Homo sapiens: one gene and its partners. The protein of the gene in region 1 purifies or fractionates together with the protein of each later gene. This does not show direct contact. Each region holds a gene or a part of one and is shown on either strand. Other genes may lie near its edges.

Region 1 (7,885 bases):
TCAGTAATAAATGGTAAATAGGGAAATACAAATAGGGAAGCTTTAAGTATATGCAAAGACACTAGAGAAAAAAAAAAGAACCTCAGGTAAGATGAAATTGGAAGTGCCATCAGAGCACAGATTTCTATATTTTAGAGGACTGAGGTGTTTCAAATCTCTGATAAAGGAGACAGTCTATGTAGAACATACGTAAAATAATTAACCTCCTCATGGTAGATTTCTCCCATAAATTTTTACCTTCATAGACTGAGTGTTCATAGGCTCTAGATAAGAAGCATTCTTGCAAAACTACAGCCAAGATTTTTTTCTTCTGTTTTCTAGGTTTCCCCCTTTCCGCCAGATAACATAGTTGGTCACAGAATAACTTTTACTTGGACAATCTTTTCTGGCTGAGGGCTGGTAAGATAATATTGTTGTCTTACAGATCCTCTGAAACTTTGTAAAAGCAAAGTACAATAGAAATATTGAAGCTGAATTAATTTAACTGGAAATGCTGAAAACAACCCAAGAGTGTTCCAGTTGAAGATGGCTCAAGCTGCAGCTGCTGAATGAAACTAGTCTGTTAGGGTGTGGTGGCTCACAACTGTAATGGGAGGATGAAACGGGAGGCTCACTTGAGTCCAGGAGCTTGAGACCTGCTTAGGCAACATAGTGAGACCCTGTCTCTAAGAAAAATAAAAAAAATAAGCTGGGCATGGTGGTGCACATCTGTAGTCCCAGCTACTCGAGAGGGAGGATGAGGCAAGAGGATTGCTTGAGTCTGGGAGGTGGAGGCTACAGTGAGCTGTGATCAAGAAGCCACTGCACTCTAGCCTGGGTGACAGAGTGAGATTCTGTCTCAAAAAAAGAAAAAGAAACAGAAACTAGACTGTCTAGCTAGGTACTACAGTGAAACAACCTTCTGGCTAAAACTGAATAGTCAAAAATGTGACAAAGAAAATAGTAAAGTTTATTTCTTTTTGGGAACAAGATCTTTAATTTCTCTGAGGCTAAAAGAGAGGGTACATTTCGGTGTTGGGCCTTTAATTTCTCTTATAGAAATTTATCAGGGGAAGGTGGTCCATCAATTTCAAATATGGGACAGTTTTTTGGGCTGCCCACAAGGGCTCTGTGGCCATGTTACACTCAAAATATAAAAATCCTCTCCACTAAGGTCATAATTGGACAGCGATAAAATTCATTAGTCTAGTACAGGGGTCAGCAAACCACAGCTCCATTTTTGGTATAGCCCATGATGTAATAATTGTTTTTACAGTTTTTAAGGACTGTAAAAACAGACAAGGTTATGTGACAGAGACTGTATGTGGCCTGCAAAGCCTAAAATATTTACTAGTCAGCCCTTTACAGAAAAAGTTTGCCAATTCCTGATCCTGTATGCTGTGGCCCTACAATTAATTTTGTTGCTGTCACTCTGACACACTTCAGAGGGTTGGAGAAGTGGGAGGAAGGGACTGTTTACTGTGTTGTTGGTAGAGTCCCAGGCTCCTTCTCTTTGGTGGATGGAGCAAGACCTCCAGAGACTGAAATATCTCTGAGCCCTTTATTTACATAAATCCATATTAATACCATTCTCAGTTTGGAAAACAATTTTTTAAAAAATTGAGAAAATATTTTTGTGCAAAGTACCAACAGAATAACATACACAGCAACTATTTACATGGGGCAGACGAAGGCTACAATTTAAGCAATTGCCAGATTCTCAGGATTGAGTCCTGATTTGAGATCACAGGGAGTAAGCTGTGACATCTTGGCTACTACTGATCAATAACAAGGACATTATTGAGGGCTTACCCTGTGTGAGGCACTGTGCTGACAGCACATATTATGTCAAATAACCCTCAAAATGATCCTTCCTGCCATGTGTCATTATCACAATGATTTGGCTCTTCTTAAGGCAGTTTACTTTGGTCTGCTTTCAAAGAAAAGTTGCAGTAACAGAAAGGGTCAAGAACCAAATGTATGCTATTAACACTTTCAGAAACAGAGCTCATTCAAAACAATTTTCCAAAATAACAAAATGTGAAGAATATGTAACAGTGACCGTTTTAAACACCTGCACTTATTCTTTCTGTACATGTATTCTTTCGCCTGGTACTAGGAAAACGTCCAACACCAGAGGTCCCTCCCCAGTTTAAAGTACTTCTGTCAAGTTGTTAACGCCTCATCTGTACCTGAGGAAAAGTAGAGTTTTTCCGTTTTTTATATATGGAAATCTGGGCATCTGAGAGAGGAAGGTCAGAAAAGTACTCAAAGTAGGCTAGGACGAGTTTGGCAGTGAACTCAAGAGCTGGTGGATTAGTGAGGGCGAGGGAGAGGGGAAGCCCAGCCACTGCTGTTCTGTCACCCGGTGGCCGCGGCTGCCGGGTCCGCTCTCGTGGGGCAAACACTCCGCATCCCGTCCCCTTCCCTGCAACCCGGCGCAGCTTCGTGGGAGGGGAGCCTCTCCTCAAAGCAGCCCCTGTCCCCAAGCCAGGTGCTGTCTGGTCAGCTGCCGGGAACGGATGTTCCACTCCTCCCTCACCCCGGCAGAGCAGCAGGTGAAGGGAGGTCCAAGAGGCCCACTCCTTCCCCCGAGGGCACCCCGACCCGGGCACCCGCACCTTGATGGGCTTGGTGTCGTTGGGGCCGAGGCACTGGCCATGCATCTCCTCCATGGCCCTGCAGGCCTGTGAGCTGCGGGCGAACTTGACGAAAGCAATGCCCTTGGACTCCTTGGTGTGCTTGTCCCGCACCACCCAGATGTCCTGGATGTCGCCAAAAGGCGAGAAGCGCTCCCTCAGCACCGACTCAGGTGTGTACTTGCTGATCACAAGGAAGATGCGGCTGTTGGGCGGTTCGTCCAGGCTGTCCACGCCCGGGCGGAAGCCCCCGCCGCTCGCAGAGCTGCCAGCTTCGTCCATGGTGCTCCACCCGAATGCAGGAGCCTCACTGCTCTTTGCTTCTGCGGTGTCTGCCACCGCTGCTGTCTCACACCCAAGCCTTTGCCGGCTCGGTGCTCCGCTTCCGGGAGAAAGAGGAGTCCGGCGCCAGGCGCTGTCCAGCCGCGCAGGATGAGGCCTTCCGGGGAGCGGCCTGCAGCGCCCCCTGGCGACGCGGGGGACCCTGACCCAGTCTAAGTCTCAAATCCTCAAATCCAGCTGAGCCTAGGCCCAAGTTATCAGTTGTGCAATCGTTCCCTGCAGGCAGAACAGCGCTGCCTAATGCACAGGCTTTCCCAACGCTGGCTTTACCCCACCCCTAAGGCCAAGGATTCTTTCCAGTGTTAAAGAAAAAATTATTCATGACACTCGTTAGAGATGGTACAGGAAGGCCGACTTTGACAAAGGGAGCCATGGAGATAGGTCCAGGGACAGCTGCAATGGGGTCTTGCAGTGGGAGAGAGAGATTGGACTGAATTTTGACTCTAATAAGGACAAATTTCTAACCAAGAAGCTTGGTGGGAGGTCAGTGGATGGAAAATTACAAAGAGGGAACATCAGTGTTAAGGAGGATTCTGGCTAAACCAACTTGACAGGATAGTTGCTGAAGGCAGGCCAGGGTGATTGATATCCATGGTAGTCAGACACCAAGAATGAGGATTTTCACTACACTGATTCAGCAGGATTCTTGCTCAAATTGGATTCTACAAGGACAGAAAGCCCAAGATCAAGCCTAGTCAAGCAGAGGACTCAAAGGAGCCTAACTAAGTTTTGGTCAAAGTGGAGAGTTGTCACCATCTTGGTCATAAGCTCAATAGATGATCAATATAGGACAGAGTTCAAACTATATAGCATTAGAGTTGGAAGGAAGCTTTGAGATCATTCAATTTCAGCGTCATTTGTTAGAGATGAGGAAACTGAGGCCTATAGCATAGCCAAAGTAATAGAGATAAAAAGTACGACTAAAACCAGAACTAACTTGGCCAGGCGCAGTGGCTCACGTCTGTGATCCCAGCACTTTGGGAGGCCGAGGCGGGCGGATCACGAGGTCAGGAGATCGAGACCATCCTGGCTAACACGGTGAAACCCCGTCTCTACCAAAAAAATACAAAAAAATTAGTTTGGCGTGGTGGCGGGCACCTGTAGTCCCAGCTACTCAGGAGGCTGAGGCAGGAGAATGGTGTGAACCCAGGAGGCACAGCTTGCAGTGAGCAGAGTTTGCACCACTGCACTCCAGCCTGGGGGATAGAGCGAGACTCCACCTCAAACAACAACAACAACAACAAAAAACCCAGAACTAACTCCATCTGTTGATTTACTCAACTTCTACAAGCAACCCTGGGGTTGGAGGGCAGTGAGGGTGGACTGCTCAGCTGTGGAACTAAGAGAAATCATAGAGTGCAAGCAAAGTGGGAAATGCCTTCTTGTTAACAAGCCTTAGAGGAGAGGTCAGAAACCCAGTAGAAATCCAGAAACAAGGCCTGGATTTAGCAGTGGCATTGGAATGAAGTGAAAGGAATAAACCCCTAAGTAGACCGAGGGCGGAGTTCTTCAAATGAACAAGTTCTGGATGCTAAGACCTAGGTTGCTATGAAGTCAACCAGATAAATACTTATTGTACTCCAACTGTGTGCCAGGCTCTATGCCAGGAGCTAGATATATAATGAGGAACAGGAAAGACATGTCCCGAGGGCTTGTTTTCCCCCACTGTGGAAATCTTACATGTAAATATATAATGCAAAGTAATATCAGATTATGTTACATGGTTTTGCTACTGAATTGTGTGAGCCTGGACAAGTTACTTAATACTTGCAGCTTCGGTTTCATTAACTGTAAAGTAGGAATAATATTACCTACTAAATAGGTAATACATATTATTTTGTGGTTGGATTAGTTAAGCTTGATAGCCGCCTAATAGCTACGCAGGAGCATGACTATCAAGTTTAATTAATTCACCCATTCACTTAATAAGTATTTTTGACTATCTACTATGTGTTAGGCACTGTGTTATACTGAAGGGATGTAGTATTGAACAAAATAATTACTCTTCTTCCCCCACAGAGTTAATCATTTAGCCTTATATAGTTATGCTCATATAAGATAATATATATGGAGTTCATAGTTTAGAGATCAAATGAGATAATATTTGTATAATGGTATAATTGAGATTAATTTTCTTGTTCCCTTTGACTATGGTATCCACTCCCCCACCACTGATATTATACAGTTGTGTGATGACTACTGAGAGTCAGGGATTGTGGGTTGTCACCCTGGATTTAGCACTAAGATTTTTATAATTTCTCCTTGTATTACATTCCATATCTGTAGTGAGGGTTCTGTTTACCCTGAGGCTGAACAACTCTAGGAAGTATCTTTTCTTGACTTTCCATTTCTCTTTTTCCTACCCACAACAATCAAGGTAAATGAAAATAATTTGATAGTGTGAGTTTTGTTGATGAGAGGAACTGCAAAGCAATATTATTTGCAAACCAGTGCCATCTAGTGGAAAATGTGTAATTTTCTTAAATTGTCCTGACTGGGCAATCTCTATTCTTTGTGAAATAAGACTACTGATTGGTGTCCTGAAAATTTTAGGCTGTTATTGAGAACAGTTAATTCTTTTCTCAAAAAAAGATAAAAGATTGCATAAAACAAAACCAGGAACGCAAATATTGGAAAATGCCAGAAAAGCAAAATTTCTTTACTATCCAATTATGTGAAATATGACATATTCAAGGAAAATTAGAAATTTACTTATAAATTAAAAAAAGTAAGTACATTTTCTTCATGACATGTATTTATTTTAAACAGATTTATTGAGATATAATTCTTCTTCTTATCTTATTTTTTCTTTTCTTTTTTTTTTTTTTTTTTAAGGGATTGGTGTCTCACTATGTTGCCTAGGGCAATCTCGAACTGGCCTTAAGTGATTCTCTTGCCTACGCCTCCTAAGTAGCTGGGATTACAGGTGAGACCCACCACACCCAGTGAGTTCTAATTCTTACATCATACAATTCACTCATTTGATGTATTCAATTAAATCGTTTTTAGTGCCTTCACAGCATTGTGCAAGCATCATCGCAATCAATTTTAGAACATTTCATCACTCAATGACCAAATTGTTATATTTCAAATCATAAAACCTTTGAACATGAATTACATGTAACTAAAACACCTAAAAATGTCTGAGGTTTAAAAGAATGATTTTTAGTTAGTCTGCTTAATAGAAGAAACCAGGTGCTGGGCATTTGCAGATTAAATTTTTTTCAAGGCTTTAGAACATGTAGCCTATAAAGCACTGTTATTAGAATGTGCACACATGTTTGTTTCACATGAAATTCAGATTTTTTTGAAACTTTTTCTCCCTCAAATCTTTTCTTTTTAAAAATGAGAGGTGATATTGTGACTAATTTTTGAAATGCCAGGAGCAAATAGTAAATTTTTGTCATTATTTTCCAAACTGAAGTACAATGAGGCTTACTTAGTTGGTGATATTAGTCTTCATATGTTACATCAATTAACTAAAAATATTTCGCCCTATTTGCAAATTTTTTATAGGTTTTAAAACTAAGACTTATTGGTGATCAATTAGTAGCTTTCAGATTGTTGTATATGAATATGATCCAGAGTTTCCATTTGACCCATCTGTAAGGCTACTGTCTACTGATAACGTAGGCAATTACTTAGTCTGACCTGTGGCAGGCACTCAAGAAATGGTAGTCTCCTTCTTGAGTTTGCATGCCTTTGAGTTTGAGAATAATATCTAACACCTGATTTTTTTTTTCACAGTATGCCTGCTCCTTTTGATTCAACTTGATGACATACATCTTTTAAATGTGTAGATCACAGGACAAAATTCATAGATACCACTTAGAATAGTTTCATTAAAGCATCTGGTGACTGTGGCTATTTAAATTAAAATTACTTAAAATTACCTAAAATTAAAATGAATTATAATGAAAATAATTAAAAATTCATTTCTTCAGTTGAATTAGCCAGTTTCCGACAGCTCAAGAGCTATCCACAGCTACTGGACAGCGGGCACGCAGAGCCAAGCACTGCACAGCAAGTACAAGGCTTTAAGCCTCTGCGAGAGGTGAGATCCCACGGGATCTGGGGGCCAATCAGCAGTGGGACCGGGTCCCGGCTTGCCATTGGCTGGCGATCACTGGTCGCGCGCGTCCGGCTGCGCTTGCAGCCCAGGGCGTGAGGTGCTCTTTCTGGATCGCCAGCCTCGAAGTTGAGGCGTGGACTCTGGCCAGGTGGCTGTTCCAGGTGACTGCTGGGAGCGGGGGCAAAGGGAGGAACCGCTGGCCGTTTTTAATGCCAATATTAAAAAGTGTTTCATTAGCATTTCTCTTTTTATGAAAAATAAGACATAGCAATGGTATGTACCCACCTATTCCTCTTTAAGCACTCTCAGTTGGGTAAAAAGTTGTAAGCATCTGCAGTGTTACAGATATTGTGTTCAACACAGGGTTGCCAAGTCACCCTTAAAAAGTAATTGTTGGCTTGGCATGGTGGCTTACGCCTCTAATCCCAGCATTTTGGGAAGCCGTGGCAGGCGGATCACGAGGTCAGGAGTTCAAGACCAGCCTGACCAACATGGTGAAACCCCGTCTCTACTAAAAATACAAAAATTATCCAGGCATAGTGGTGCATGCCTGTAATCCTAGCTACTCAGGAGGCTGAGGCAGGAGAATCACTTGAACCCGGGAAGCGGAGGTTGCAGTGAGCCGAGATCACACCACGGCACTCCGGCCTGGGCGACAGAGTGAGACTCCGTCTCAAAAAAAAAAAAAAAAAAGAAAAAAAAAGGAATTGTTAAACCTATAAGATTATAGATTGAATATTAATTCTTCTCCACTGCTCACCAATCTGTGACCGTAAACAAGTCACTTAATTTCTGTTTGCCTCGTTTTCTACATCTATAAAAATAGAGATGTTAATGGTATCCATCTTACAGG
Region 2 (6,960 bases), on another chromosome or scaffold:
TCCTCATGCAGCTCGCAGCCATGTTTCCTCTCTGCTTCTTGATTTGCTTCAGCTCCTTCTAGTGCCTTGAAACTGAAGCTGGCCTGTAGTTGGGATCAAAGATGGAGGGAGAGGGGAGATTGTACTATGGATAGTGTAGGGCAAGAAGTGAATTCTTACACTGGAATGATAAAAGGAACCTGCTTCCTGAGTTTCTTAAAATTGTGTCTGGAACTCAGATTTGCACTGCCTAGTATAGTAGCTGCTGGCCACTGCTCTGTTGAGCACTTAAGCTCTGGCTAGAACATGTAAAATACATATCAGATTTTAAAACTTAAAATGGGAAGCAGACTAAAATAGCTAATCAATTTTTTATCTTGGGCCAGGCACAGTGGCTCATGCCTATAATCTCAGCATTTTGGGAGGCCAAGGAGAGAGAATTGCTTGAGGCAGGAGTTCAAGACCAGCCTGGGCAATATAGTGAGACCCCTGCCTCTACAAAAAATTTTAAAAATTAGCCAGGTATGGTGGTGCACACCTGTAGTCCCAGCTACTCAGGAGGCTGAGGCGGGAGGATCGCTAGAGCTGGGAGGTCAAGGCTGCAGTGAGCCGTGATTGTGCCACTGCACTCCAGCCTGGGTGACAGAGCGAGACCCTGTCTTAAAAAAAAAAAAATCTTGACTACATGTTGAAATAGTATTATTTTGGATACATTGAGTTAAATAAATACATTTTTAAAACTTCTTTCCTCTGTTTCTTTGTACATTTTTCATGTGGCTACAAAAAAATATAAGCTTGTTGTAGGTTTCTGTTGGACAGTGCTGAATTGCCACAGCTAACACCAAGATGATAGTTGTTTATTATCCATTCTCACTGTCAGAAAACAAGATGCTTGGGGCTCTGGTTTTGTTTGCTTATTTTTTTGTTTTTAAACAGAAGTTTTGCTGCCAATTAGCAATTAGAGAATTTTCTTAGGTCAGAAAACTTACAATTTGCAGTAATCAAAAGAAGTTAGTAAATTCTATTTGTGACTCTGCTTATGGAAATTCTAATTTAAAAACACAGTAAGAAATACAGGCTAGATTTATTGATTCTATGATGTTCAGTTAAGGTAGTAAACCTAGAAGTATTCGCCTAAAGAGAAAAACATTCTTGAGTTTGCAGATTGCCATCTTGGTAATATAGAAGGCATGCCATATGCACCTGATGACACTTTATTGTATCTGTTTCTATCTAAAAAGCCTTGCACATTTGCAGTTGTAACCTAATTCAGTTCTCATGGGTTCTTCACAGTAGTTTAAAGTCAAACAGTGTGCACATAGATACACTACATAATAAAAAATTGTACAAAACAGGAGAAAGTAGCTTCATAGTAAATATAAACCAAAACTGAAAAGAAGTTTCTTGCTTGTATCTTTTTGCTATTCTTAATTCTGTGATTGTAAAGATTTTGTCTTTTTGTATATTTTTTATGCAGGAGTCCAACCTATACCTTCTCAGGGAGGCAAACTAGAAATAGCTGGCACTGTGGTTGGCCATTGGGCTGGGAGCAGGCGGGGCCGTGGGGGCCGGGGGCCTTTCCCCCTGCAGGTGGTTTCTGTCGGAGGACCAGCTAGAGGGTAAGTTCTGAGCCACGAAAATGTCTTTTGTATAAGTAAAGAAAACAGCTTCTAACTTGCTTTTTTTTGGAAGTTTAAGTAGGAACATTTTTATATCATTAGATACATTCTTCTTTAATATCATTTGTATTTAATTATTTAGTTTTTATTTATTTATTTATCTTAAGATGGGGTCTCACTGTCACCCAGGCTAGAGTGCAGTGGCACAATCACAGTTCAGTGTAGCCTTGACTTTCTGGGCTCCATCGATCCTCCCACTTCAGCCTCCTGAGTAGCTGGGACCACAGTCATGTGCCACCATGCCTGGCTAATTTTTGTATTTTTGGTAGTGACAGGGTTTCGCCATGTTGCCCAGGTTGGTCTTGAACTCCTGAGCTCAACCAATCCACCCACCTCGGCCTTGCAAAGTGCTGGGATTACAGGTGTGAGCCACTGCACACAGCCTTTAACATCATTTATAATGTTTGCATAGGATCCCATTTATAGTATTATGTAATTATTTAATTAACCATTAAATAATTAACAATTATTAAATAATTAACCATACAATTTTCAATTAACCAGGTGCCTTAATATTTTTAAAGTATTAGTTTTCAAATCAAATGCATTGGATATGGGAGATGTAGCTCAGGGGTAGAGCATTTGACTGCAAATGCATTGGATATGAACCAAAAAAATAAGATTGATTCCTTGGAATAAATCTTCCCTATGATCATACTTAACCTGTTTACGCCTAGTGTTCCATTATTGGAACGCAAAGCATGTGGGAGTTCTTTATGTCCTACTGCTCAAGGTCTGACTGCAAAAATTCAACAAATTGCAACTTCCGGCATAAATGGGTTAATTCAGTGCTTCATAAAACGTAAGATTGGATGGCTTTAAAATCATTTGATACTATTTTAAATGTTGTCTGTAACAGATTTAAGTGTTTACTGTTGTCCTTTTTCATTCATTTAGGCGTCCAAGAGGAGTTATTTCCACCCCAGTGATTAGAACATTTGGAAGAGGTGGAAGGTACTATGGCAGAGGTTACAAAAACCAGGCAGCAATTCAGGTAAGAAGACAACATGATGTTTGTGCCAGTTCAATGCCCTCAGGGATGTCTCCTGTCTGAGCTTGCACTTCTAGTACCTGCGCTCAGACAGAAGAGCTGTGAGGGTAATGCTTTAGCTGTCAAGTGTCTAACACAGTAACTGGCACACAGCTGCTCACCAAATGTCCATTCCCTAGAGCCCAGATCATTTTGCTGTTAAGTGCCTCTTCAGGTTGTCTCTCCCCTTTGCCATGACCCTGTGTCTCTGGTAGCTTCCCGCCTGGTGTGACACGATGGGCTTGGCTTACCTTGGGCATTGCCTAGCCCTGACAGAGCTGGAACAGCCACTTGTAGTTTCTTTTTTTTTCTTTCTTTCTTTTTCTTTTTTTTTTTTTTTTTGAGATGGAGTCTCGCTCTATTGCCCAGGCTGGAGTGCCGTGGCACAATCTCCGCTCACTGCAACCTCCACTTCCCGGGTTCAAGCGATTCGCTTGCGTCAGCCTCCCGAATAGCTGGGATTACAGGTGTGTGCCACGACACTCGGCTAATTTTTGTAGTTTTAGTAGAGTTGCAGTTTCACCATGTTGGCCAGGCTGGTCTCAAACTCCTGACCTCAGGTGATCCGCCCGCCTTGGCCTCCCAAAGTGCTAGAATTACAGGCGTGAGCCACCATGCCCAGCGGTCCTGCTATATTTTTATGTTTTATATTATTTGTCTCAAGGTTCAAAGAAAATGACGATTGCATTGATTCATGGAGAAGGGTGCGTTAATATTTCTGAACTTTAGGGTTGGAAGGTAAAATAGAGGATGTTGTAGGAGAGTATGTGGGGACCCTTGGTTTATGGGGGCCATTCCTTAGGCAAGGGTCACATCTCCATCTGGGTTGATGATTTTGTCATCAACAAGGCAAATACCCTGGTTTTCAGAATGGGAGGCCTAGAAGATGCTGGAAGGTACCACCATCTTTGTTGGGAAGGGAATGCGATGACGAGCTGGAAGGTTCCTGTTCTCGTCTGTAAAATGACTGTTTGAAGGTGAAAAACATCCATGTTTTCTTCAGCACCGAGTCAGTCTATGACAGTGGCTCTCAGCCCTGGTGATTGGCCCCCAAGGGACATTTGGAGACGTTGATTGTCAAGACTTGGTGTGGGCACTGGATTTTAATGGGTGAAGCCTAGACATTTTAACGGGTGAAGACAACATGATGTTTGTGCTGCTAAACACCCTACGGTGTGTGGGACAGCCCCATCACGGAGAGTGGACAGAGCCAGCGTATCATATGCTAAGGTTGAGGAGCCCTGGTCTAATGATAGGAGCAATTCAAGATCTGTCTTCACTGCCTTCACAGAGAGCCATGTCTTTCAGAAAATGTGCTGGATTAGTCTCAAGGACCATTTTTTTCAGAGGCTTATTTTTAAATCTGTTCAGAGGAGTGGGGAAGACCCATTCAGAAGAGTTATTTCACAAACACGTGGCAATTATCAGTGCAGATTTCTTGTTAAGGTTCCCTAGCAATGACTGTATTTCCCCAGTAGAAATGGGGTGTGTGTGCTGCTGCACATCACAGGCAGATGTGGGAGACCCTGTTTGTTTTGTGGCAGTGGGAACAGTCGCAATTTTAGAGAGGACTTATTGAGGGGCATTTGTTACTTTAAACAATTTAGTGCCATACAAAGGATTAGACAGAGCTCCTGAAGGGGGAATCTCCCTCATTTTCAGGGTGTTAACTACAGAGGAGTTGAGGGAAGGGGCCATGGAGGGAACTGACTGAGACAGGTAGAGCATCTACCGCCCAAAAGTCAAAGCAAAGACAGGGTTAGAAGGACCCAGCTGGGCATTTTCTGCTCTTGAATCTGCAGAGAGTGTCATTAGGCCAAAATTGGCATCCTCTCTCTTCTGTTTATCAGAAACCACCTTCTCATTTGTTGTCCTTCATTTTAAACAGGGCAGACCTCCTTATGCTGCTTCAGCAGAAGAAGTGGCCAAAGAACTTAAGTCAAAATCTGGGGAATCGAAGTCCTCTGCTATGTCTTCAGACGGGTCCCTGGCTGAAAACGGAGTGATGGCCGAGGAGAAGCCGGCTCCCCAGATGAACGGGAGCACGGGTGACGCCAGGGCCCCCAGCCACTCTGAAAGTGCCTTGAATAATGACTCTAAAACGTGCAATACAAATCCTCATTTAAATGCACTAAGTACAGACAGCGCTTGCCGCAGAGAAGCTGCTCTGGAGGCAGCTGTCTTAAATAAAGAAGAGTAAACTTATTTTTTATAGAGGGTGAAGGATGCTGGAAGGGTAAGGATTTAGGAATATCTGGAGAGAAAGAGAGCCTGCAGTTATGTACATTTTGTCCTTTCCGTAAGAGAAAAATGAGGACTTTGGAAATTCAGATCCCTCTTTGATATCAGAGATTTAAACAACACATTTTTAGTTTTAACCAGTTGTAGTCAAAATGCTACAATAAAACAAAAAAGAGAAAGAAAATGAAGAGCATTTGACTCCCGCACTTAAAATGAAGTACACATAAAGTTTAAACTGGTTATGACAAAAGCCTTTAGTTGTGTTTCTTGAACTATAAAGAAAACAAATTTTGGCAGTCTTTAAGTATATATAGCTTAAAATATAATTTTTAGCATTTGGCACCATATGTATGCCATTATATTTGATTTTGCATTACTGTTTCACAATGAAGCTTTCTTTAAGGCTTTGATTTTTATGATTATGAAAGAAATAAGGCACAACCACAGTTTTTCTTTCTTAAATTTCATCACTGTTGATGTGGTTCTTTTGTGTTAAAAAAAAAAAGTGCAACTATCAAAACTAAAAAATTATAGAGTAATATTGCCGTTCTGCTGATTTTAAATATACAATACATCATACATACTTTACAAGCAAGTTAAATGGAGATAAAGTTGAAATCATAGAAGATGCAAATGACCTTTCAAAATCAACACAATGTGTTCTGAAACTTTCGTGACTAATACCATGCATCTGTGATCAATGAACTATGTGGTTTTGAATCGGATGTAGACCATTAGTACTACTACTTGAGCTAAACTTCTGCATGGTTCATAATTTTTAAAGTGTGTAGTTAATATGCATGTTATCGTCCTTTCTTCCATTCTTAACAGTATGTGCCCATTTGCAAAACAAAAATGCTAATAATCAGTAATAGTCCTATAAAAGATGTTAACTCTGTTTAGTCATTGACTGATCTTGCTCTAACCTTAAAATTTTGTGATTATTGACCTCTGTTGCATTTATTCTAAAGCCCCCCAAAAATTATCTAGCCGTTTCGAATATCAACATTACCCTGGTGTATTCACTGCTGTATGCATTATTGTTCTTTGTTGCTGTTTTATGCCTTCATATTAGCAAATATGAAATTCTGTGAAAAAAAACCCTTTGATCTTAAAAAAAAAAAAACCACCCCCCCCTTCTGTAGCAGGAAACAAATTGCTTGTTCTTGAGAACTTTCCCATCAAGAATTTAGTAGAAGCAGGTATACTTCTATCATTTTGATGTTTTTGTTAATGTTTCCAAACAATGTACTTTGAAATCAGAATCACTTCTTATCGTTTTCATATACTTCTGATGCTCTTCATCACATTAGTGATCAGAAATGAGGTGTAATTCCCCAACCCCTGCCCGCAAGAGCTAAGTAGGATCTTACTGTAAGTTGAAGGGAGTTTTGCCCTAACTCATGGATTGTGCAAGAATGAACTGCTGTTGGGTTTGATTGACTGTCGATGGATTGTGGTGTGGTGTATCTGAAGGCTATTGAATGCAACTTACAATGCTTAATAAAAATCTTTATTCTTTTAGTATAAAGTATGGCGTGGCTTTTAAATTCACTTGTAAAAGCTAATTTTATAGAGGTTTAATTCAAATCGAAACAACTACTGAAAAGATCAGAAAACCAAAGTTGAAAAATATTTTACCTTTTCAAAGTAATTCCAGGTTTCCGGCTTAGAGGGACATTAATATATGATTAATTTGTTTGATAGCTCAGTTTCAAGCAACCAAGGGGATAAAAAAATTCTGTTTGATAAAGCAGACTTACAGAAGAGGTTTTTTTAAGCCCTGAGGAAGCAATAAATTTGACTCCACCACGTTTTAAAAGCTGGATGTTACAAGTATAGTCCGTTTTTCATGCCATCCTTTTGACTGAAGGCTCTTCTCTGCAGCCTGATATGAGGTCCCCGTACCCAGGTCCGCCGAGCGCCTGGAGAAAGCGCCCCGTGCTGCCCTCTAGCGGGGGATGGTGGGCTAACGGCGCCGGAGGCGGCCAGGAGAGCTGCGGCGATCCCGCTCCAGGGAGGGGCTGGCGC
Region 3 (4,797 bases), on another chromosome or scaffold:
TTTGAAAAAAATACCCCCTCCCAAGCCCCAGATCGCCATTGGTAAACAACAGCTCTATTAATAAAGCCTTTAAGTGTCACACATGCTTTAAAAAAAAAAAAAAAAAATCCAAGTGTTGAATTTGGAGGACTTCTAATACGCTATTGAATATTTCTTTTTTCCAAAAGTTTTTTTTAATCTAGAAGGCATTTCCATTGCCTTGAGGTACAGTATGTTTCACTGTACTATGAGGAAGGTAAGTGTTCAATTTCGACTTAGACGGAAAAACTAGTTTGCTTTGCTTACCATCTTTGCTGTTTCACAGGCATTTGATGCTTTAAATCTGATGTGGAATGCTGATAGATTCACTTTTTAGAAGTCATAAGCCTTTAGGAAGTTGGAGATAACTTCATTGCTTATCTATTTTCTCCTTTGCAATCAAGCTGTTCCTTTAAAAGTGAGACACTACAGAGTTGCAAAAATTTGAAACAGTAAGAGCAAGCACCTTTGCAGCTTCATGGTTGGTTTTGGCCAAACTTTTTATTTAGTATTCTGTAGTTGTTTAACACACACTTAAATGGTCTTATTGGGGGAAGGGAAAGGGGAGGTTCTTGCAGATTCCCAAGGAAATGTCAGAAAGGCAAAATGGCCAGCATTATCCATTTGCTTTTTTGGGTTTACTGGGTGAATAGCACTTTCCTTACATAGGCATGTGATTTCAGGTTTTTCGTACTGAGAACATTGAGATTTCAGTTGGAAGACACCCTGAAATCTTATGAGTAGCATACCCCAACCACCCTCTAATAGCTAGCTTGTTTGTATAGGTAGAATGATTCATCTCTCCATTTTAGATGGCTAGATGTTTTGTGGAAGATCTTAGAATTGCCTGCCTCATTTGCTGGGAAAAATCAGATAGGAAGTGGCCTTTAGGGGATACTTTTACTTGGAAAGTTACAACACTAGTACAAGTCTTAACACATTTAACATTTGCTTGTTGAAAAGCAATGCGAAAGTCAAATAAAATTAAACATGTTTTACTTTTTTCCTCACAAGAACATAAAAATTATGGAGGGGAACTTAACAGGGAATTTAAAAAAAGTAACACAATTTTTCCTTTTAGTAGTCCTTGGGTAGTTATGATAGAATAGTTTCCACTTTTTGTTTCTTTGAACTGGGATTTTGGTCCAAAGTTTTGTTTGTTTCTAGTATCTGCTTCTGCCTCCCCCTCTATCAGATCGGCTTCCTCCACGGCCACCACCTCTTGGTGCTCCGCGGCTTGAACTGCTGTAGGAATCACGTGGAGGAGGGTACCCCCTTTCCATAGAAGGGGGAAGCCCTCTTTCTTGTCTGCCAACCCGATCACGACCACTTGAGTAGAGATCACTTCGGCTGCTTGAGTAACTGTCTCGACTTCCACCATATCCGTCACGTGAGCTGCTGTAATCATCATAGCGACTGCTTCCACCATAAGATGGCGGGGGCCCTCGTGTAGGTGGAGCACTACGTGAGTTACCTGCAGGGTCAATGGTCAGGTAATATGGCAACACTATAAATTGTATATATACAACATTTTAAATCTGAATTTACAGAATTCTTGTATTAAAAGTTTACTTTCTCAACTGGGTGGGAGGTTTTAAACTCTGCCATTGCTGGCCATAACAGGGATTTGCTCATCTGCTGAGATATGGAATTGGATTCATTTTAATGTTTGTTTGAAAAGACTGAAGACGGTGTGTATTTCAAGAGGATATTCCAGAGAGCTTGTTATTTTATAGTAGACACTCAGCCACTTTCCAGTGATAAGTTGCAATTTTGAACTGTAGAACTTGCCTTCATATTGCAATGGTAAATATTTGATCTTGTTAATAAAATTTTTAAATTGTATTTTCACTGTTGGGGGAAAACACATAAGGCTGCCAATTTAAGCAAGCAAAATCCCCTCCAAAGCAAGCAAACAGCCTCAAAAGAAACTTAGAAAAACAAAAAAAGCCCCTCACAAAACTAGGAAAAGCCCAGCTGATAAAGTTACCCCTTTAAAAGCAAGCAAACATCCCTTTAAAAGCAAGCACCACACAGCCTAATAAACTGGCTCACGAACCTAAAAACTCAAGCTGGTGATACTAAAGACCCTTAACCAGTATCTTACCATAACTCTCATATGAATCTCTGTAGGAACCTCCACTTGGATGATCTGAATAGTCACGATCACGACCATATCCATCTCTATCGCTAAATTAAAGAGAAACCTTTAAGTCCCAGAGAATCAACTTTCATTGCAACTTTTCTTACATGTAAGCCACAGAAGCAAAGTCACTTACCTATATCCTCTTGATGGATAGTCATCACGTGAACTGGAATGACCATAATCACGGTAAGTATAATCTCGTGGTGGTGGTGCATAATCTCTAGTATCACGAGAACTTGGGTAATCTCTGCTTGAATAGCTACAAAGCAAAAGTTTTGGTTTATGCTTTTGATAAGCTTTCCTTCAACCTTAATTATTAATTTAAAAAGCTGCACTTTTCTATTACCTGTCTTTAGTAGAATACCCATCATCTCTTGGGGACAAATAAACATCTCTACGAGAGGGCAGCGGTTCCCTTCGAGGTGGACCTCCATAACTATCTCTTCCACGTGATACAGGAGCTTAAGGAAAAATATCATTTTTTTAAACATAGCCAGAGAAAAAAGTTAAAACGTGAACTTACATTCAGGCTATGAAAAATAATGAGACTGACTTCAAAGATGACATTACGGAGGCTAGATCACCTAATTTTATTTTCTACAATTTCCCATTCATATTTTAAATTTTTTTCAGTGCTAATTCCATTTATCTAATCACCTAGAACACATGACTAAAAGTTTTGTTTTTTTTTTTTGAGATGGGAGTCTCGCTCTGTCACCCAGGCTGGAGTGCAGTCGCGCAATCTTGGCTCACTGCAACCTCTGCCTTCTGGGTTCAAGTGATTCTCCTGCCTCAGCCTCCCGAGTAGCTGGGATTACAGGTGCCCACCACCACGCCCAGCTAACTTTTGTATCTTTAGTAGAGACAGGGTTTCACCACGTTGGCCAGACTGGCCTCGAACTCCGGGCCTCATGATCTGCCCACCTCAGCCTCCCAAAGTGTCAAGATTACAGGCGTGAGCCACCGCACCCAGACTCCATGAATAAAGTTTTTTTTTTTTGTTTTTTTTTTTTTTTTGGAGACAGAATCTCACTCTGTTGCCACGCTGGAGGACAGTGGCATGATCTCGGTTCCCTGCAACCTCTGCCTCCCAGGTTCAAACAATTCTCCTGCCTCGGCCTCCCAAGTAGCGGGGATTACAGGAACCCGCCCTACACTCAGCTAATTTTTGTATTTTTTAGTAGAGACGGGGTTTCACCACATTGGCCAGGATGGTCTTGATCTCTTGACACCGTGATCCGTCTGCCGCGGCCTCCCAAAGTGCTAGGATTACGGGCGTGAGCCACCACGCCTGGCCAATTAAAATTTTAAGCATCATTCACCTCTCAATTCTTTGTGTTACGGTAGTAGCATAAATCATCATACATGGAACATTTACCTCTTCCTCCCATTCCACTGCTACTGCGAACTGGTCCTGAAGGTGCAGATCTCTTAGGAGGAGGACCCCCACTTCTTGGTGGTGGTCCTCTTTTTACTGGGAGTGGTCCCCTGGAAGAACTCATGTTAAAATTCATGGAATATCCACCGTCATCTGCATCAAAAATAGAAAAGAAAAATATTACTACTCACAAGAATCAAGAAAGATATAAAAGTTTTTTTTTTTTTTTGAGAGTCTCACTGTCGCCCAGGCTGGAGTGCAGTGGCTTCATCTCGGCTCACTGCAACCTCTGCCTCCTGGGTTCAAGCAATTCTCCTGCCTCAGCCTCCCGAGTAGCTGGGATTACAGGTGTGCGCCACCACACCCAGCTAATTTTTGGTGGTTTTTTTTAAGTAGAGACAGGATTTCACCATGCTGGCCAGGCTGGTCTCGAACTCCTGACCTTGTGATCCGCCTGCCTCAGCCTCCCAAAGTGCTGGGATTGCAGGTGTGAGCCACCAGGCTCGGCCACTATAAAAGTTTTCTTTGCTTCATCAAGAATATGACCATTATTGGGCCGGGCACAATGGCTCACGCCTGTAATCCCAGCACTTTGGGAGGCCAAGGCGGGCGGATCACCTGAGGTCAGGAGTTCAAGACCAGTCTAACACGGTAAAATCCTGTCTCTACTAAAAATACAAAAATCCAGGTGTGGTGGTGCATGCCCGTAATCCCAGCTACTTGGGAGGCTGAGGCAGGACAATCGCCTGAACCTGGAAGGCAGAGGTTGTGGTGAGCCAAGATCGTGCCACTGCACTTCAGCCTGGGCAACAAGTGCTAAACTCTACCCCCCCCCCCCCAAAAAAAAACCATTATTGATTTGGGTAGTCTAGTTTCACTTGTACTTGATGGAGCATGCACTGCAGTCATAGAAACTGGGGAAATAAGAACTGAAGGTAGTCTTAAAAAACTTTTTTTTTTTTTTTTTGAGAGGGAGTCTCGCTGTTCCCCCAGGCTGGAGTACAGTGGCACGATCTCAACTCACTGCAACCTCTGCCTCCCAAGTTCAAGTGATTCTTCTGCCTCAGCCTCCGTAGTAGCTGGGATTACAGGCACCTGCCACCACGCCCAGCTAACTTTAAAAAATAAAAATGATTTCATTTTCATGTCCAACACCCTGGCCTATCAATTTTTAAATGCCTTTCCTACAGAGTGAACTACTTGGACAAGAAGTAACACTGTCCACGGTTTAACACCATAATCTAAAACATGCTTC

Evidence for each region. Proteins that work in one complex are often made in the same cells at the same time.
Region 2: the proteins of RBM45 (region 1) and FAM120A purify together in Homo sapiens (co-immunoprecipitation; 3 studies listed by BioGRID and IntAct, with this or other methods). This does not show direct contact.
Region 3: the proteins of RBM45 (region 1) and RBMX purify together in Homo sapiens (affinity purification with mass spectrometry; 4 studies listed by BioGRID and IntAct, with this or other methods). This does not show direct contact.

The regions. Positions count from the first base shown.
Region 1 is NC_000002.12:178,107,562-178,115,446, reverse strand, and holds the start of RBM45 (RNA-binding protein 45), read right to left. Parts: upstream 3,011-7,885; 5' UTR 2,901-3,010; coding exon 2,601-2,900; coding exon of another isoform or gene 2,172-2,600; intron 1-2,171. UniProt on the Homo sapiens protein: RNA-binding protein with binding specificity for poly(C). May play an important role in neural development.
Region 2 is NC_000009.12:93,559,653-93,566,612, forward strand, and holds the end of FAM120A (constitutive coactivator of PPAR-gamma-like protein 1), read left to right. Parts: intron 1-1,456; coding exon 1,457-1,598; intron 1,599-2,555; coding exon 2,556-2,652; intron 2,653-3,352; coding exon of another isoform or gene 3,353-3,367; exon of another isoform or gene 3,368-3,911; intron 3,912-4,576; coding exon 4,577-4,888; 3' UTR 4,889-6,460; downstream 6,461-6,960. UniProt on the Homo sapiens protein: Component of the oxidative stress-induced survival signaling. May regulate the activation of SRC family protein kinases. May act as a scaffolding protein enabling SRC family protein kinases to phosphorylate and activate PI3-kinase.
Region 3 is NC_000023.11:136,872,961-136,877,757, forward strand, and holds the end of RBMX (RNA-binding motif protein, X chromosome), read right to left. Parts: intron 3,696-4,797; coding exon 3,543-3,695; intron 2,626-3,542; coding exon 2,511-2,625; intron 2,424-2,510; coding exon 2,298-2,423; intron 2,209-2,297; coding exon 2,126-2,208; intron 1,493-2,125; coding exon 1,182-1,492; 3' UTR 501-1,181; downstream 1-500.